Linked DNA regions of Homo sapiens: region 1 is linked to region 2. A link means that fine-mapping ties the variant in region 2 to the expression of a gene that starts in the linked region. Tissue or cell type: whole blood. Region 2 holds a variant in brackets; the other region holds the start of a gene. Each region is shown on its reference strand, or each on the opposite one.

Evidence for each region. PIP is the estimated chance that this variant, and not a neighbour inherited with it, causes the effect.
Region 1: TTC9 starts here. The variant in region 2 is fine-mapped to the expression of TTC9 in whole blood (TOPMed, PIP above 0.99).

The regions. Positions count from the first base shown.
Region 1 is chr14:70,638,823-70,644,195 of GRCh38, reverse strand. It overlaps TTC9 (tetratricopeptide repeat domain 9), which reads right to left and starts at 2,280. Exons shown (of 3, transcript NM_015351.2): 1 at 1,661-2,280. The coding sequence starts at 2,066. TTC9-DT (TTC9 divergent transcript) reads left to right here and starts at 2,898. Exons shown (of 3, transcript NR_110071.1): 1 at 2,898-3,188. RefSeq lists silencers at 1,726-1,795, 1,816-2,005, 2,226-2,375 and enhancers at 2,846-3,105, 3,206-3,385.
Region 2 is chr19:44,425,762-44,431,134 of GRCh38, reverse strand. ZNF229 (zinc finger protein 229) reads left to right here. Exons shown (of 6, transcript NM_014518.4): 6 at 593-4,881. The coding sequence ends at 2,832. Among named protein-coding and RNA genes, the nearest start is that of ZNF229, 20 kb to the left of the region's middle. The variant G/A (reference allele first, on the strand shown) is at 2,338.

The DNA of each region.
Region 1 (5,373 bases), not on the chromosome of region 2:
GGAGGGCAGGCAGTGCTAGCCACTGGTTGGCAGCCCTAGAATGTCCATGGATAATACTGACTAAATATAAGATTCCATTACCACTCCAAAGTCACCGCATTAGCAATCCACAGTGCCTCGTCCTCCACCCATGGCTGCTCTGCCCTTTAACTATTCATGGGGCAGCAGACAGTATGCCAAAGACTTACAGGAACTAAAGGACTCAAGCTGTATCTTATAATGGATTGAAAGAGTCCATTTTTGCTGTACTACAATTTTATCTGCTACTATTACTGCTAGTATTGCTATTAGCACCACCACTCCTCCAACTGCTGCTACTACTACTCTATTAATCCTTTAAGTCTGTAAAGTACTTTACAATTTACAAAGTGCCTCCGTAGCCTGGGTTTTACCCGATCAAAGATGAGACTGGGCATGGCATTCTGGGAAGACAGAGGTAGGCTGGTACTAGAAACCTCAGAGGGAACAGAGAGATCTGCATTTAAGAACCGAGCAGAATTGCCAGTATTTATTTTTACTCCCCCACCACTGCCTCGGCTTCAGACACATTCACCATTCCCTGCCACACCCAGTCACTCTTCCACCCCTACCCTGCTCTAACTGTCCATAGACAGTTTAGGCAACCTCACATGTCAGGAACTAGGAGGAACTGCCCTTTGTTTGGTCGGAGAAGGTTGACCATGCCAGAATCTCACCAAATGGGGCAAGAGAAGAGGAGAGAATGCTTTTTAAGTTGCCTTTGCCAACCTCTCCCACCTTCTCCCAGGAAGGCCCTAGCAAGAGCCAGACTCTTCTTTTTTTAAGAGACTTTAAATATTCCTGCGCCTAAATTAAACAATTTTTAAATCCCTGATTTTGGCTCTTATCCCCAAAGGGAATGTTGGAATGTACACCTTCTTTGCCCAAGAGTAGGGCCCCCTTTTCCTTCACCCCTAGCAGCCAGCTGGCGTGAGGACTGATGCTACACATAGTGAGAAACGGGCAGGGAGGAGAGGGAGAATGCAGCATAGTTCAAGCCCAACCATGAACCAAGCTTCTTTTGAGATAGAGATCTTCACCTGGCAACCGGGAGCCCCAGCAGAGCTCAGAGAGAAGAAAGTGGCATTCTGGAATCCATTTTGCTCAAGATGCTGAAGGCATGGTGTCAAACTCCCCTTTGCTACTGGGGCCAAAAAACTTGGGGAAGATCTTACCTACAGGGATGCGGTTAGTTGGGGAAAAGGCGAGGACCAATCCTGGTGCTCATGCTACCTAAGGAGAGCAGACAGGTGCGTGGCCTCCCTTGGGACCCACCCGCAGGAAAAAGCTGGGCTAGCGGTGGCTGCGGGGGCCCACCCCGGGCGCTGCTTCCGCATTTTGGACCCAGGTCCACTGGTGAGCAGTAGCAGCAGCAGCCATAGCCAGGCCAGCTGGGTCCCCTTCCAGTCATTTCTAGGTGAGATTTACGATGTATGCTAGCGAAGGGACAAGAGATGATTATGGCCTTTGAAAGGCATAATCCTGAAAGTCACACTTTTTCCAAAGCGCCTCCCTCCCGGGTTCTCCCCAGAGCAACACAGTCACAGCAGGAGAATCTGCACCGCGGGAGCGCCGCAGTGGTCCGCGGAGGGACCGGGCCGAAGAACGGGGACCGCGGCGCGGGGGGCGCGGCGCGGCTCACCTGCCAGGCTGTTGTAACAGTCGATCTCGATGGCTTCCACCGTCTTGCTCTGCTCCTCCGAGAGGCGGCCGGGCTTCAGGGCCCCAGCCGGGGAGGCCGGGCGCGAGTCCCGCTCCCGTTCCCCGGGGGGCGGCAGCAGCCCCTTCAGCTCCAGCAACGCCCGGTGGTATTTGCCTATGGCTTCACGGAATTTCTTGTCCTTGTAGCACTGCGCCCCTTGGCTTTTGAACTCGTGCGCTCGTCGGATGAGCTCGGCCGGCTCGGCCGCCGCCCCGACCTGGCCCCTCGCTGGGGCTCCTCCGCCGCCGCCCGGGACGCACAGCGGCGGCGGTGGCCGCTGCCCCTCTCCGGCCGCGGGCGGGCTCGGGTTCCCCTTGGCCCCGGCCGCCGAGCCCTTTCTCTCCATTCGGCCGCCGCCCCGGCGCCTGGTGCGCGCCGCGATCTGCCCGCCGCCGCCGCCGCCGCCGCGCCTTCCCGGGTTTAAAAGCCGCGGGCGCCGGCCCCGCGCCTCGCAGGCTTCGTGGCGGCCGTGACACCCCGCGGCGGTCTGGCGCCCCGCACTCCCATTCTCCCCGCTGCTGCCAGAGGCTGCTCCAGCCGCCGCCGCCGCCGCCTCGGACGCCGGCCCCTCCCCCGCCTCCCGGCTCCGCGCCGCCCGCTCCCGCCCTCCTCCCTCCGCAACCTGCGGGTGGCGGGGGCCGGTGCTCGCGGGCCCGGGACTAGCGCTGCGGGGGGACCGTGGCCCCGAGTGGGGTGGCGGGGATGGTCGCTGACCCGGAAGAAGCTTGGCTTGCCCGAAGGAGGGGAGGATTAATGACAAAGACGGCCCCGCTCTTTCCCATTCAATCCCGCTCTGCGAGGCGCGCCTAGTCTGAAAGGAGGTGGGGGGAGGGGGGTAGGTGTAGGGGAAGGGGAGTGTGTGTGTGTGCGTGTGTGTGTGTGTGTGTGCGTGCGTGTAGGGATGGGGGGCGGCGGCGACGAAATGCGTGCAGAAATAGATTTCTTAACTACAAGAAAAGGTGCGGCAGGGAACAAGGGGCGCAGGCGCAAGCCGTAGCTGCTAGTTCTTTGCAGTAAGGTGTTAGTATTTTTTAAGGGGGCAGGGCCTCCTTTTTGTGGATCCAGGTTGTCGCTGAGGTGTGTCTCGGTGTGTGTGGTCGCCGGGGCGTCCAGAACGCGACGGGCGGTACAGCGTGTGGGGCGCCGTATTCTGGGAGCCTGTGTATGCGTGTGCTGTGTGCGCGCAGCTGTGCAGGATGAATCACAGACATCAGAGATGGAGAACACCTGTTACTGTGGGTCATCGGCTTGGCGTGCGTCCGGTCTAGTTTCCATTTACAGGACAGTTCTGTGCCCTTCCTCAGGAGGTCCCATTCCTTCCTTCTTTTGGTCGGTTCTGAGTGTCAGCTGTCTACTGGGGATCTGCTAAGGCTAAGAGGCAAAGATAGGCAAGTCACTCCCCTGACCTCAAGAAACTCCCAGTCTACAGGCGAAGATACACCACCCACCGGTAGAGTCGCTGGACCAGGTACAGATGGTGCCTGTCATTGGGGAGGAACGAAAAGTGCTGTGCAGCCCTGAGGGGGGGAGGGAGAGGTAGCTTTTTGAGTAGTGGTAGATCAGGAGGCTTTATGGAGGAAATAGCATTTGAGGACCTTGAAGGCTGGGTAGGATTTGGCATGAAGAAGTAGAAGGAAGTGGCATAGCCGGAGTGAGGAAATCCAGCGGAAGTCCTGATGTTTGAAATCTCAGGTGTGTTTAGGGCATAGTGGTTTGATTTTATAGCCTAATGAGAAGTAGTGGGAAATGACGGGGTTGGATTATGGGGGCTTTTGGATGAAGAGTTTGGATTTGATTTTGGAGTCAATGGAGAAGCCTGACATATTTTTTAGTGCCCTCCCTTCCTTAATGTTAAGAAAAAGAAAGATTCTAGAGCACCGGTTGTCAGAGTGCTGGCCCCAGACCTGCAGTGTCAGCATCACCTGGGAAACAGTTAGAAATGCAAATCCTAGGATCCTACTCCAGACTTAAGAAATCAGAAACTCTGAGGGTGGGTCTCAGTTAACCAGTATATTGGTTCAGATATGCTGCTTTAAAACCTTCCTACTCAAAATGTAGACCTTGGGCCAATATCATCAGCATCACAGGAGAACCTATCAGAAATGCAGAATCTGAAAATCCCACACCTACTAACCCAGAAGCTGCATTTTAACGAGCATACTGGGTGATTTGTTTACCTATTAAAGTGTGAGAAACACTGCTGTAGAGACTTTGGAAAATACAGTAAAGTATAAAGAACCCCCCAGTCTACACCCAGTTGTATTCTTTGTTAATATTTTGATGTAATTCCTACCAGTTGTTTCCTAGGCATCTATATTTGTAAAAAGTGCTCTTTTAGCCAACATAAGTGGTATGGAACAATATACACAATTCATTTACTGTTTGTTGTTGTTGTTGTTGTTTTCTTTTCTTTTTTATTTTTGAGTCAGGGTCTTTCTCTGTCACCCAGGCTGCAGTGCAGTGGCATGATAATTGCTCACTGCAGCCTCAAACTCCTGGGCTCAAGGGATCCTCTCACCTCTTACTTTAGCCTCCTGAGAAGTTGCAACTATAGGTGCACACCACTACCCCTGGTTAATTATTTTTTTTGTAGAGACAGGGTCTTGCAATGTTCCCCAGGCTTGCTTCCTGTGCTTTTTACTTTACATTATATGTAATTAAATATTCTTTTAAAGCCTAATTTTTAATATTCTGTACAATATTCCATTGTAAGTGGCCGGGTGCAGTGGCTCACGCCTGTAATCTCAGCACTTTGGGAGGCGGAGGTGGGTGGATTACCTGAGACTAGAAGTTCAAGACCAGCCTGGCTAACATGGTGAAACCCCATCTGTACTAAAAATACAAAAACCAGCTGGGCATGGTGGTGGCTGCCTGTAATCCCAGCTACTTGGGAGGCTGAGCAGGAGAAACGCTTGAACCCGGGAGGCAGAGGTTGCAGTGAGCCAAGAGCGTGCCATTGCACTCTAGCATGGGCCGCAGCGGGAGACTCTATCTCAAAAAAAAAAAAAAAAAAAAAAATTCCACTGTAAGTGTACCATAGTGTACTTAAGCATTCTTCTATAGTCAGAAAGATTTTGCTATTATAAATAACACTGAGATAAAAATAATAGATATCACTTACATATAGTATTTACATTGTGCCAGGCATTGGGTTAAGCACTTAACATATAATAATCCACTGAATCTTCATAATAACTTAGTGAAATCAGTGCTATTGTTATCCTCATTTTAGACACCAAGTCACAGAGACTTGCCTGAGATTACACTGCTAATGAGTAGTGGAGCTGGGACTTAAACCCAAGAAATTTGGCTCCAGAATCTATGCTCTTAACTATCTTTATACTTAAATTTTTTTCCTAATTTATTTTTTCTTACAAAACATTATTTCAAGTTTTAATAAAGTCTAGAAACACATTGTCAACTTGCTTCTCAGAAAGATTGTACTAACTTGTGCTGCCACCAGCAATATGCTAGTTTCACCACCTCCTTGCCAACGTCAAGGGTGAGCTCTTAAGAAATATTTTCTAATTTGATAAATTAAAAATGTATATAGAATTAAATGAGATAGCTCTAATTATAAAGGTGAACATTTTTCACATATACCGTTGTCATTTATAGAGAACCTAGGGCTTTTAGTTGGACACAATTTTAGC
Region 2 (5,373 bases):
CCCTCCTGAAGTATGGCTCACAAATACCCAGAAGTACAGTCACCCCTGAGACACAGTGCAGGGAGAAGGCCGTGTGGGCTTCCTGCATTTAAATGCCAGCTCCACCACTGCCTCACAGTATGGTGGAATAGTGTGCTAGGTTACCTACCCTCTCTCTGACTTGGTTTCATCATTGGAAAATGAAGGTAATATAATGGTTTCTACTTCAGTATTATTCTGAGGTTTAAGTCAGTTAATATGTGTACATCATTGGCAGATAGGAAGTGTTACAATAGTGTCAGATATTATTAGTTATAACAGCATTATTAAGCGAAGAAGTGAACTTTCTCTATAAAAATCTGTTCCGAAATTCTTTTTTTGCCTGGCAATTCTATGATGAGACATAGTTTGGTACTAATAGGATCATACTAGCATTTAGCTTCAAAACTTATTAATAGGAGCCTCCTCTTGTCATAAACATAAGTGCTCTAATAGTTATGATACATAAAGCCTAATTTTTCTCTAGGCTATTATTAGTTCAAGTCTGAAAGTCTGATGTCCCTGAGCCAGTCTTTTACTAGTTCTCATCTCTGAATTGTCTTTAACCTCATAGGAGACAAGAATGGAAAGGATACGGAGTATATTCAAGATGAAGAATTAAGGTTCTTTTCACACAAAGAGCTCTCCTCATGCAAAATCTGGGAAGAGGTGGCAGGTGAATTACCTGGGAGCCAAGACTGTAGAGTAAATCTGCAAGGAAAAGACTTCCAGTTCTCAGAAGATGCTGCTCCCCATCAAGGGTGGGAAGGAGCATCTACGCCGTGTTTTCCAATTGAGAATTTCCTGGACAGTCTACAAGGGGATGGGCTTATCGGTCTAGAAAATCAACAGTTTCCAGCCTGGAGAGCTATAAGACCAATCCCCATTCAAGGATCTTGGGCAAAAGCGTTTGTGAACCAGTTAGGGGATGTTCAAGAAAGATGTAAAAATCTCGACACAGAAGACACAGTATATAAATGTAACTGGGATGATGACAGCTTTTGCTGGATATCTTGTCATGTTGATCACAGATTCCCTGAAATAGACAAGCCGTGTGGTTGCAATAAATGCAGAAAAGACTGCATTAAAAACTCTGTACTTCATCGCATTAACCCTGGAGAGAATGGCTTGAAAAGTAACGAATACAGAAATGGCTTCAGGGACGATGCAGACCTTCCCCCGCATCCAAGAGTACCTTTGAAAGAGAAACTCTGTCAATATGATGAGTTTAGTGAGGGCTTGAGGCACAGTGCCCATCTTAACAGACATCAAAGAGTTCCCACAGGAGAGAAATCTGTTAAGAGTCTTGAGCGTGGTCGGGGCGTCAGACAGAACACGCACATACGTAACCACCCCAGAGCCCCTGTGGGAGACATGCCCTATAGATGTGATGTCTGTGGAAAGGGGTTCAGGTATAAATCGGTTCTTCTTATTCATCAAGGGGTGCACACAGGAAGGAGACCCTATAAATGTGAGGAGTGTGGGAAGGCATTTGGTCGAAGTTCAAACCTGCTTGTCCATCAGAGGGTCCACACTGGAGAGAAACCATATAAATGCAGCGAGTGTGGGAAGGGCTTCAGTTACAGCTCAGTGCTTCAAGTCCATCAGAGGCTGCACACAGGGGAGAAGCCCTACACCTGCAGCGAGTGTGGCAAAGGCTTCTGTGCCAAGTCTGCACTGCACAAACACCAGCACATTCACCCTGGAGAAAAGCCCTACAGCTGTGGCGAGTGTGGAAAGGGATTCAGCTGCAGCTCCCACCTCAGCAGTCATCAGAAGACACACACCGGCGAGAGGCCCTACCAGTGTGACAAGTGTGGCAAAGGTTTCAGTCACAACTCGTACCTTCAAGCTCACCAGAGAGTTCACATGGGGCAGCATCTGTACAAATGTAACGTGTGTGGTAAGAGTTTCAGTTACAGCTCAGGGCTTCTCATGCATCAGAGACTGCACACAGGAGAGAAACCCTACAAATGCGAGTGCGGGAAGAGCTTTGGCCGGAGCTCCGACCTCCACATCCATCAGAGGGTCCACACAGGAGAGAAACCCTATAAATGCAGTGAGTGTGGGAAGGGCTTCCGGCGGAATTCAGACCTTCACAGCCACCAGAGGGTCCACACGGGAGAGAGGCCCTACGTGTGTGACGTGTGTGGGAAGGGTTTCATCTACAGCTCCGACCTCCTTATCCATCAGAGGGTCCACACTGGAGAGAAACCCTATAAATGTGCTGAGTGTGGCAAAGGCTTCAGTTACAGCTCAGGGCTTCTCATTCACCAGAGAGTCCACACAGGCGAGAAACCTTACAGATGCCAAGAGTGC[G/A]GAAAGGGCTTTAGGTGCACATCAAGCCTTCACAAACATCAGCGAGTCCACACGGGAAAAAAGCCCTATACGTGTGATCAGTGTGGCAAGGGATTCAGTTATGGCTCTAATCTTCGCACCCACCAGAGGTTGCACACAGGAGAGAAACCCTACACTTGTTGTGAATGTGGGAAGGGTTTCAGATATGGCTCAGGTCTCCTTAGTCATAAGAGAGTGCACACTGGCGAGAAGCCATACAGATGCCACGTGTGTGGGAAGGGCTATAGTCAGAGCTCACATCTTCAAGGTCATCAGAGGGTCCACACTGGTGAGAAACCCTATAAATGTGAGGAGTGTGGGAAGGGCTTTGGCCGCAACTCCTGTCTTCATGTTCATCAGAGAGTCCACACTGGAGAGAAGCCCTATACGTGTGGTGTGTGTGGGAAAGGCTTCAGTTATACCTCAGGTCTGCGGAACCACCAAAGAGTGCATTTAGGCGAGAACCCTTATAAGTAGATGTACATAGAGGATTCCATCTGGGACTCAGAGCTTTCTATCCATCTGAGAGCCAACACAGGAGAAAAACCATAGGAAAGTGACATGTAGGAGGGCTATAGGAGAAACTGATGATTTTACATTTTCTAGTCTGCATAGGAAGGGAACACCTGGATGTGTGATAAATAGGTTAGCACTTCAGTTACAAACTTCAGTCTTTAAGAGTCTGTTGTGCAGCGGAGTAGGCTTTAAAGAAACAGTGCAGCAGTGGTTTCAGTAATAATCCTCACTTCCATCAGAATCTGCCTGGGAGGGAGCTTTTACAATGTACAAGTGGTGAGAATGTTTCCAAGGTGCTAATTATGGACATAGATTCTTTGTGTGGGTTGATAGCTACCAATGGGACAGTGTAGAAACAAGTTTCCACCTTTCTAAAACCAGTTTGGTACATATCTTTTTAAAGATCGCTTTATAAAAACAAAAAGATAACATTAACATTTATTGAAACAAGTCACTCTGAGAAGACCAGGAACAAAGTTCTCTTGGCAGATCTGGGTGATGTGTGTGTCTCACATTTTTATCATGTTTTTATGACTGTTTTATCTTGCAGGTAAGCTTTACAGCTTTCAGAGGAGTTGTAGTACACTACAGAAATATGTCTTCTTTCCAGGTTCAAAAAGCAAAATCTGATTGGCATTGCATTGAATTATTAATTAAATAAATTTATTAATTGGCATTGCATTGAATTTATAGGTTAATTTTGAAAGAATGTGGCGTCTTTGAAATGCTGATTTTTTTTCACTTTAAAAAAATGACTTTTTTTTTACCACTGATAGTATTTCATATGGTCCCTCAGTAATATTTCTTAGAGATGGTTAAAAATAGGTTCTGAGTCATCTTAAGCATATTTCTAGGAATTTGTTTTATTGCTGTCATGAATATAATGGTTTTGCTCCAGTTCATTTCATAGTTTAACATATCAAATATTAGGTATCTTAAAAATCACAAATGCTATTTCACCCTGCAGGTTAGCAGTATTAAAATAGAATCATCAAATCCCCCATCAGTGGGGGCGGGGGGGGGGGTTGTAGAAACAGTCTGATATGGTTTGGCTCTTGTCCCCACCCAAATCTCATCTCAATTTTAATCCCCACGTGTCAGAGGAGGGCCTTGGTGGGAGATGATTGGATCACGAGGGCAGATTTCTCCCTTGCTGTTCTCATGATAGTGAGTTCTCATGAGAGCTGATGGTTTTAAGGTGTAGCCCTTCCTCGCTGTCTCTCTCCTGTCCCCTTGTGAAGAAGGTCCTTATTTCTCTTTTGCGTTCTGCCATGACTAAGTTTTCGGAGGCCTCCCCAGCCATGTGGAACTGTGTGTGAGTTAAACCTCTTTCCTTTGCAAATTACCTAGTCTCAGGTAGTTCTTTATAGCAGTGCAAAAATGGACGTAATAAGTCTTATGTACTTATTGGTGAGAGAGAAAATCCGTGCATTGTTTTCAAAAGAATTCATTAACGTATCAATTCAATTTCTATAACCTTTGAAGTGGCAGTAAATATGTAGTAATTGATACTTGGGAGATAGTTGCCCACTTGGGCAAAAACGCATGCAGAAGGTGGAGTTTTTAAATTTAAAACATTTTTAAAATAGCAAATGTTAATATTCCAGTTTCCATTGGTAGGAAATTTTTTAGATAAGTTCAGGCATATGTATGCAATGGAAAGCCACTAGAAATCTTCAGGCACACAGATAATGACAATGCAGGTTGCTCATGAAGTATTTAGTGAACCAGGAGAGTTTTAGAACAACAATTATAGCATGACCCCATTTTGTTAGTATGTTTTTCTGTGTGTATGTTTAGAGCAACAGAGAAAAAAAGATGTGGGAGAGGACATATAACTACTTATCTCTAGTGGTGGGATTCTGAATGTATAATACATATGTTGTACTTTTATGTATTTTACTTTGTAACAAAGTATCTTTCAGTTTTATAATAACAGTAGAGCTATTTTTTATAAATTAGCCTGATGGAACAATCCCTTATGATTAAAGATTCATGTTGTAACCTCTATAACTTTTTTGGCTTTTTCTCCTGTTCACCCAACTCCCTGTACCAAAGATAAGGCATACAAATGAGTGATGTAAATATTCTCAGAGGCTACATCATTTTTGCTGGCTGGTAGGAGATGAGGCAGTCTAGATAATTAGGAGCCACGGTGTTTCCATTTTTCAGTCCTGCCTTCTTGAACTAGTGAGCCCACAAGCCTGGTTTTGTAGAGGGCAGCACACCATCATGTGTTCCTCCAGGATAAGCTCTCTGTCTTGGTGACTCAGGAGACCTGGGTCTGCTCTGGTCTGAGCCTTCTGCTGCCTGGAGCTGCCAAAGAGAGAAGACATGTCAAGAGGTGGGGAACAGGCACTTTATATATAGATAACCAAAGTATTTACCGTGGGAAATAAGGTTTCAGAAGGGGGCAAGGGGTAGGGATGAAAAGTAATTTATGGAACTGCAGCAGAGTCACTTGGGATGTAGGGTTTTATGGCCAACAGAACAAATGCAGAC